2 linked regions of the Homo sapiens genome follow. The protein of the gene in region 2 purifies or fractionates together with the protein of the main gene of each other region. This does not show direct contact. Each region holds a gene or a part of one and is shown on either strand. Other genes may lie near its edges.

Region 1 (3,923 bases), on a different chromosome or scaffold from region 2:
ACATGGGTGTGGAAGGGAGGGTAAGCCTCTTCTCCTTCATGAATTATCAGCTCACACCTCTTCTCAGCTCACACCAGGAGGCCTGGCACAGGACAGTGAATCATGCCCAAGAAACTGCCTTGTGGCTTCCTGCCTTCCTCCCTCCCTCCCTATCTTTCCTCTTTTCTTTTCTCTTTTCTTTTCTTTTCCTTTCCTTCCCCTCCCCTTCCTTTCTTCCTTCCTTTCTTTCTTTCTTTCCTTCTCTCTCTCTCTCTTTCTTTCTTTCTTTCCTTTCTTCTTTATCTATCTCTGTTTCTTTCTCACTTCCTTTCTCCCTTCCATGAACCTACAGCTCTATTCAGGAGAACAATGACTGTCCATTGACTTAACACCCATGATAACCAGGCACTGTGTGACGCTGAAGTAGAACAAGGGGCTTTCAGAACCTGGTGGAAGGAGCTGGGCATCAGGTTCAAGGGAGTAACACAGTCGTGGAACATTGGGAAAGGAGGAGCTATTCACATGCCTGAGATGTAAGGATGTCTGGATTTTCCAAGGGCCGCGTCTAGTAAGAGAGTGTGTATTGAGGGCAACTCTGAGTTAGTGACTTGAGGTTCATCCTGTAGTGATCAGAGGAAATGGCTGGTGTATGAACCTAGGGAATCAGCACGCTCCTCTTCCTATGTCACTCCTGGAGAAGAAAGATACCACAAGAGGCAGGGTCTTCAGGGCTGAGCCACAATGTCACACAGATCCAGTCAATCCTGCCTGTCCATCTCAATGACATCTACTATCCCTGATCAACACGGCACCTTAAGGCGCCCTTCACAGTGAAAGCAACTTATTTCCAAAGCAGGCATTTTGCCTTCCATTGCTCCTCCCAGGTCCAAATCCAGTAAGAGACTGAAAATCAGATGATTCACTTATTCTGCACCATCCCCATGGCCTCGCAGAACCAGAAATGCCTATTGTTATTTCCATGTCCACTTCAACCATGAGGAAGCCCAATAGGACTAATCTGGCTAAAGATTAGGGCCCAGGCCAAGAGGCCTGGCTCGTTCTAGTCCTAGGAGCATGGTACTTCCTCCTAATTTAATCCATTGCCATTCAAGAAGACCTTTGCCCACAGCAACCACACCACAAAGGGTGGACAGTGAGTCAGGCCCAGGTGACATCACTGTCAGAGCTTAAGTGACAAAAAATGTTAAGCCAGAGATACTTATCACAAAAGCTGGAATGAAGTTAGAGCAGTCTTTTAAAAAATCCAATTTTCTTAAGGCAGGGCTCATTTTCTATATAAATACCAGCTAACAAGAGACTCTTCACCAGATCCCAGAGGCTGAACACCTCGACCTTCTCTGCACAGCAGGTGAGTCTCCGCATTAGGAACACCTTAATATTCTCCAATAGTTTCTTTATTTTGATTGAGATCTCTTTGCTATGCAATGAATATATTTATTTTAAATGCAATAACGACTTTTGTTTAAGGTGACCTTATACATATTTTGACTTTCCACTCAGATTACAGGTGTGGAACTTAGGATCAGAAAAGGGGAGTGATTTCTGTAAAGGCTTGCTAAGTTAGCAAGACAATATACCCACTTCAAGAGCACTCTCCTGTCAACATGTATTGAAAATTTTTAATATAGAAGGCACTACATTGGCAATTTTGATGATCAAAAGATAAGTTTTTCTTTATTGCATGAATGTATAATCCATTAGAAAACATATACTTGACTAAAATTTGCAAACATACAGCATGGGGAGTGATTAGCAGAGAGGGAAAGCAAGTATCATGCTGTGGCAAAACGAGGAAGGTGAGAGCATCAGGAAGGACAGCCATGAGAGGTGGGCATGTGTGGGGAGGCAGCGATGATGTGGAGAGCCTGCCAGAGAGCATGTGCAGCAGGCACAGTGTGAACAGAGGCTCCCAGGTGGATTGTGGGAGCCTTAGGGGGAAGTTTAGATAAGAGTTCTCCTGGGAGAACTATCGCACTCTATAAGGAGGACATGAGTGAGTAGATTCTAGACTGCTGACCTTAAAATCTTTCCAACTTATGGAAAAACTGAGGTGTCACATCAATCTTCAGCCAATGACACACAGCCAAGAGTGGTATTAAAAGTGATTTAATCAGGGAAGAGCAAGAAACATGCATTTCTTTTCACTCAATTCCTCAGATGATCCCTGAGCAGCTGAAGACCAGAAAAGCCACTAAGACTTTCTGCTTAATTCAGGAGCTTAGAGGATTCTTCAAAGAGTGTGTAAGCGAAAGCTTCAGAGTATATATTTGCATATTTGTATGTGTTTTCATGTTGTACGTAGGTTTTTAGATGTACCAGGAAGAAAAGAAGCATAAAGAAAGGCTCCATTTACACGATGTGGAAGAAATCAACTTTACCTTATTCTCTGGAAGATAAGTGGGGATCACCAAAGCATCCCATGATCTCAAATTCAGGGAAAAAGAAAGAAAAGAGAGGCTCTCAGTTCTGAAGGAGAATGAAATGACAGATATTTGTCATTAAACTGGGCTTCATTCCTACTTAATCAAAGCACTGAATTAGCTGTTTTGTCTCTAGGTCCAGCATCCTTTGAAGCATGAGTTCTTACCAGCAGAAGCAGACCTTTACCCCACCACCTCAGCTTCAACAGCAGCAGGTGAAACAACCCAGCCAGCCTCCACCTCAGGAAATATTTGTTCCCACAACCAAGGAGCCATGCCACTCAAAGGTTCCACAACCTGGAAACACAAAGATTCCAGAGCCAGGCTGTACCAAGGTCCCTGAGCCAGGCTGTACCAAGGTCCCTGAGCCAGGCTGTACCAAGGTCCCTGAGCCAGGTTGTACCAAGGTCCCTGAGCCAGGCTGTACCAAGGTCCCTGAGCCAGGTTGTACCAAGGTCCCTGAGCCAGGCTACACCAAGGTCCCTGAACCAGGCAGCATCAAGGTCCCTGACCAAGGCTTCATCAAGTTTCCTGAGCCAGGTGCCATCAAAGTTCCTGAGCAAGGATACACCAAAGTTCCTGTGCCAGGCTACACAAAGCTACCAGAGCCATGTCCTTCAACGGTCACTCCAGGCCCAGCTCAGCAGAAGACCAAGCAGAAGTAATTTGGTGCACAGACAAGCCCTTGAGAAGCCAACCACCAGATGCTGGACACCCTCTTCCCATCTGTTTCTGTGTCTTAATTGTCTGTAGACCTTGTAATCAGCACATTGTCACCCCAAGCCATAGTCTCTCTCTTATTTGTATCCTAAAAATACGTACTATAAAGCTTTTGTTCACACACACTCTGAAGAATCCTGTAAGCCCCTGAATTAAGCAGAAAGTCTTCATGGCTTTTCTGGTCTTCGGCTGCTCAGGGTTCATCTGAAGATTCGAATGAAAAGAAATGCATGTTTCCTGCTCTTCCCTCATTAAATTGCTTTTAATTCCAGTCTTGGCTGTGTGTGTCATTGGCAGAATCTTCCTCCTTCCTTGTTTCCCCATTGTGAGTCAGGACCTATAGACAGAGAGGAGTTGATGTAGAAGTCATCTATTTAACCCCAGTACTGTTTGTTTCTATGGGTGTATGGGGTTACAGTTGAGGTGTTCCTGGAATGGCAATGGGCCTGGTGTGATGTTGAATAGAAGTTGTCACTTTGGGCAGCCACAGGCTCTCCTCTTGCACTGGACTGAGTCATGCCTGACTCCAAGCCACCTGTTCCAAGACACCTCTGATCCTCAGTATCCTGACAACAAATCTCCTGTTTGTTCCAAGAAAACTTTACTCCTACATATTTTGACTGGACAGTCTATTTTTCTTCATTTGTTTTACCTTCTAGATACCCCACCACACACATACACACACACACACACGCACACACACACACAGAGTCATTCACAAAGAGAAACATTCATTTTAAATAGCCACACAGTCACATAATCATTCACACAAGCTCTACCCTC
Region 2 (3,514 bases):
AACAGAAGCATAAATTTCTTTTAAATTAATACCTGTAAACCTATTTTCTATAAGCCCAAACCCTTCTAAATTGATAATACCCAATCCTTTTTTTTTTTTTTTTGAGACAGGTTCTCGCTCTGTTGCCCAGGCTGGAGTGCACTGTCACACTGCACAGGCAGCCTCGGCTCATTTGCAGTGTGCCAGCGCACCCCACTGCTCACTGCAGCCTCGACTTCCCAGGCTCATGTGATCCTCCCACCTCAGCCTCCCAAGTAGTTGGGACTACATCTGCCCACCACACCTGGCTATTTTTTTATAGAGATGGGTTTTCACCATGTTGCCCAGGCTGGTCTCAAACTCCAGGGCTCAAGCAATCTACCTGCCTCAGCCTCCCAAAGTGCAGGGATTACAGGTGTGAGCCACCAAACCTGGTAGTAATACTCAATCTTCCCCTTAAATATTTCCAGACATTCTACCTGGTACCTAAGAAGCTCAAACTCTAATAAAGTACCATCTATAATCTTGAAATAACCCAATCTATGATTGTATTGCCTATCTGTGGACACACTCTGTTGGACCATTATGACCCAACCTCTGACTCTGTCCACTCCAGCAGAACTTTTTAAATTAGACATATTTGGATTTTGACTCTAAGAAAGGTGGTACCTTGATTATTTCCTTGTGTTGACTCTGAGATGCTGACCCCAAGCTGGCTGCCATAGGAGTTGATTCCCATCATGCCACTGTGCGCTGGGGAGCTAGAGAGGGCTGGAAGCTGGCTGGGATTCCTGGGGACGCTGTAGAGAGCTTCAGCAATGTCTGCGGCTCGCTTCAAAATGATGTCCTACAAAACAACAGGTTAATGTGAGCATTCTATCCAGCATAAAGTGCAAAACTCAATAAAGGATAGGATGTCAGTATCTCACCTGGTTATTGTGTGGTGTGCCATAAAGAGCTTCCACTAGATCTGCAGCTCTTTTCAACAGCATCTCCTGGAAAATAAGCGAGGATGGGATATTGTCAAAGGCAAAATCCAAGATGGCAAACAAAAGAAAATTATAGGCAAAAATGAGAAATCCACACATCCCTCCCAAAATGTAAGTAATTAGCCAAGAGGTCCTATATTTGGTTTGACAGGTAGAATACAATTGTACATGTACATCTCTCTGTAAATACGTATCTATCTGAAATTCACCTCTATAAAATGGCTCTATAAATGATTGTGTTACCAAAACAAAAAACAACCCAATTGAGAGTATAGTTTATTAAAATTATTAAGGTCATGGAAGTTCTATTAAATGCTACTTTCAGCCCATTCTGTTTTAAAAATCTGGTTCTCTAATTAACCAAATATTCTTAAAATGATTGATGGATTTGAGTTTAGCTGCTTGCCAAGGAGTTGTCCAGAGTACTGAAATTATCTTGGCAACGTCTGCTGCAAAATTTTATTCTAATAAAGATGAATTCTTTCAATAATATTTCCCCCTGTACACTTTAACCACAGAGAATTAGTAATCACGAATCCCTTTCCTCTCATTTTGCCTTTTCCACCTCCTGTTTTACACAGCCTTTTAAATTGCTATTAACCTACTTTCCAGATATCATCTAATTTAATGGTGGGGCTAGGGATTTTTCCAGGAGGAAAATAAAGGTGTGATGTAGAAGCAACTCTGGTGCATAAATTTTATTCACAGTATGCAAAAGAGAATATGGCATTTTATAATTTGTGTGTTTAAAGTGCAAATATAAATGTGAAAATTTAATAGTTTCTCATCAGCTGAATGACAACTAATAAATTGATGTACTTTTTAAAGAAAGCTAACAACATGGGCCAAATTCATAAAGTAATTTTCATAAGGAAGTTCACTTGAAAGTGATGTATTTCATAGAAATTTTATACAGAAGCATTTTTCTCCTCATTAGATACCTACGTACATAGTAGGCCCTCAATAATTAATACTAATTGTGGATTAATGAGTCCTTGCAATTATGGTTAAATAGAAACATTTAAATACAAAGGAGTGGAAGCTTATACTTTTAACCAATTATGCAGTTATTTATTTTCATAAAGTTGGCCATGTTTTTTAAACTGAATACTCCTGTCGTGTATCTGTTTAATCAGCTCAAATGTTCATATTTCCTCAGAGATTAATAAATAAGACCATAATATATTTCATAGCAGATATTTTATGTGCATCTCGTATCTAAAGCTTAGCCAAATTTCAAGGCCTAATTAATTTTAATGGGATGTAAATGCCTGCATTTGTCTAAGTTTCCTGAAATTCTACACAAATGGCTTCACATGTCAATTTCCAAAGCACATTACCTTAGCTAATCTCTCAGGATCTCCAGGATGCCTAGGGATGACCTTCTGCAGTCTCTGGAAGCCATAGTCTATGGTGGGTTCATTTAATGCTGAAAGAGAAAAGTCCTCTTTCTGAGTTGGTATCCTGGCTATAAAGCAAACCTTCTAATTAATTCTTCCACAGGTAATAAGAAGGTTCTGGATGCATAATGGATGTAATCAGTTAGGGTTTTTGCTATCGACATTGGTTAATTCACATATAAATTTGGAATTTATAGTACTTTTATAGTTTCCTATTAGAATAACATTTCAAAATTTCAGATTATAATTATCATTTCTGCTTTAAGTATACATAAACTTCTCTGCTATCAAATAAAAAATTAAGCAACCATATCTCAATTTCTTATGAAGATAATAAACTACTTTTATATTATTTTCCTTTCTCTTATCTCTTTCTTAAGTAGGACTGCACTGTCTATTCTTCTAAATATCTATGAAATATTCTTCTAAATATTTTTCTTAACCAGTCTCTTATGTATATTTATACATATATAAACCTTCTATGAGCTTATTCTCATAAAACCCACTTTATGCATAATACGCTTCCACAATTTTCAATTATATTTAATTACACCCACGTCTGGTAACTATCAGCCCCCCACCCCACGAATACTACAAATTTTATTTCACCACTATGTTCCCGTTAAGACAGGGCCTGGCACATAGAAGGCACTTAGTGTCAGTAATTATAAAACGAGTGAGTGAATGAGTGAATTAATGAATGGCATACTTTAGCATTTCCACTATTCTAAAGAGTTTTCTGCATGCTGCTTTTATTCTTTCTCCTTCTTCCCTTTCATTTATTCTTTAAAAGTTTCTTGTTTAAATGTCATGGTTTTAAAATTAATACATGATTAAAGAAAAAGATACAAAGAATGAAATAATCACCTGCACTGCTGTTATGCAGCAATAAACACAGTAATGTCTATTTCCTCTTTAATCTTATTTTTTATATATATGTTGCTATTATTCTATCATAACAATGCCTCTTGTAAAAAACTATTACAAACATTAAATATAGAAGTAAAAAATTACCATAAACCCACTTAAGACATGAGCTGGATTAACATTTTTTGCATATGTCTTTCCAGATTGAAACCTATACACATACTTAAAATTATTCAGAGACATACCGTTCACACTGTTACATAACCTACTTTTCATCCA

What was found.
Region 1: the proteins of EBF2 (region 2) and SPRR3 purify together in Homo sapiens (affinity purification with mass spectrometry; one large-scale study listed by BioGRID and IntAct). This does not show direct contact.

The regions. Positions count from the first base shown.
Region 1 is NC_000001.11:153,000,446-153,004,368, forward strand, and holds SPRR3 (small proline-rich protein 3), read left to right. Parts: upstream 1-1,303; 5' UTR 1,304-1,348; intron 1,349-2,157; exon of another isoform or gene 2,158-2,241; intron 2,242-2,556; 5' UTR 2,557-2,575; coding exon 2,576-3,085; 3' UTR 3,086-3,411; downstream 3,412-3,923. UniProt on the Homo sapiens protein: Cross-linked envelope protein of keratinocytes.
Region 2 is NC_000008.11:25,860,401-25,863,914, forward strand, and holds part of EBF2 (transcription factor COE2), read right to left. Parts: intron 2,398-3,514; coding exon 2,309-2,397; intron 975-2,308; coding exon 909-974; intron 827-908; coding exon 649-826; intron 1-648. UniProt on the Homo sapiens protein: Transcription factor that, in osteoblasts, activates the decoy receptor for RANKL, TNFRSF11B, which in turn regulates osteoclast differentiation. Acts in synergy with the Wnt-responsive LEF1/CTNNB1 pathway.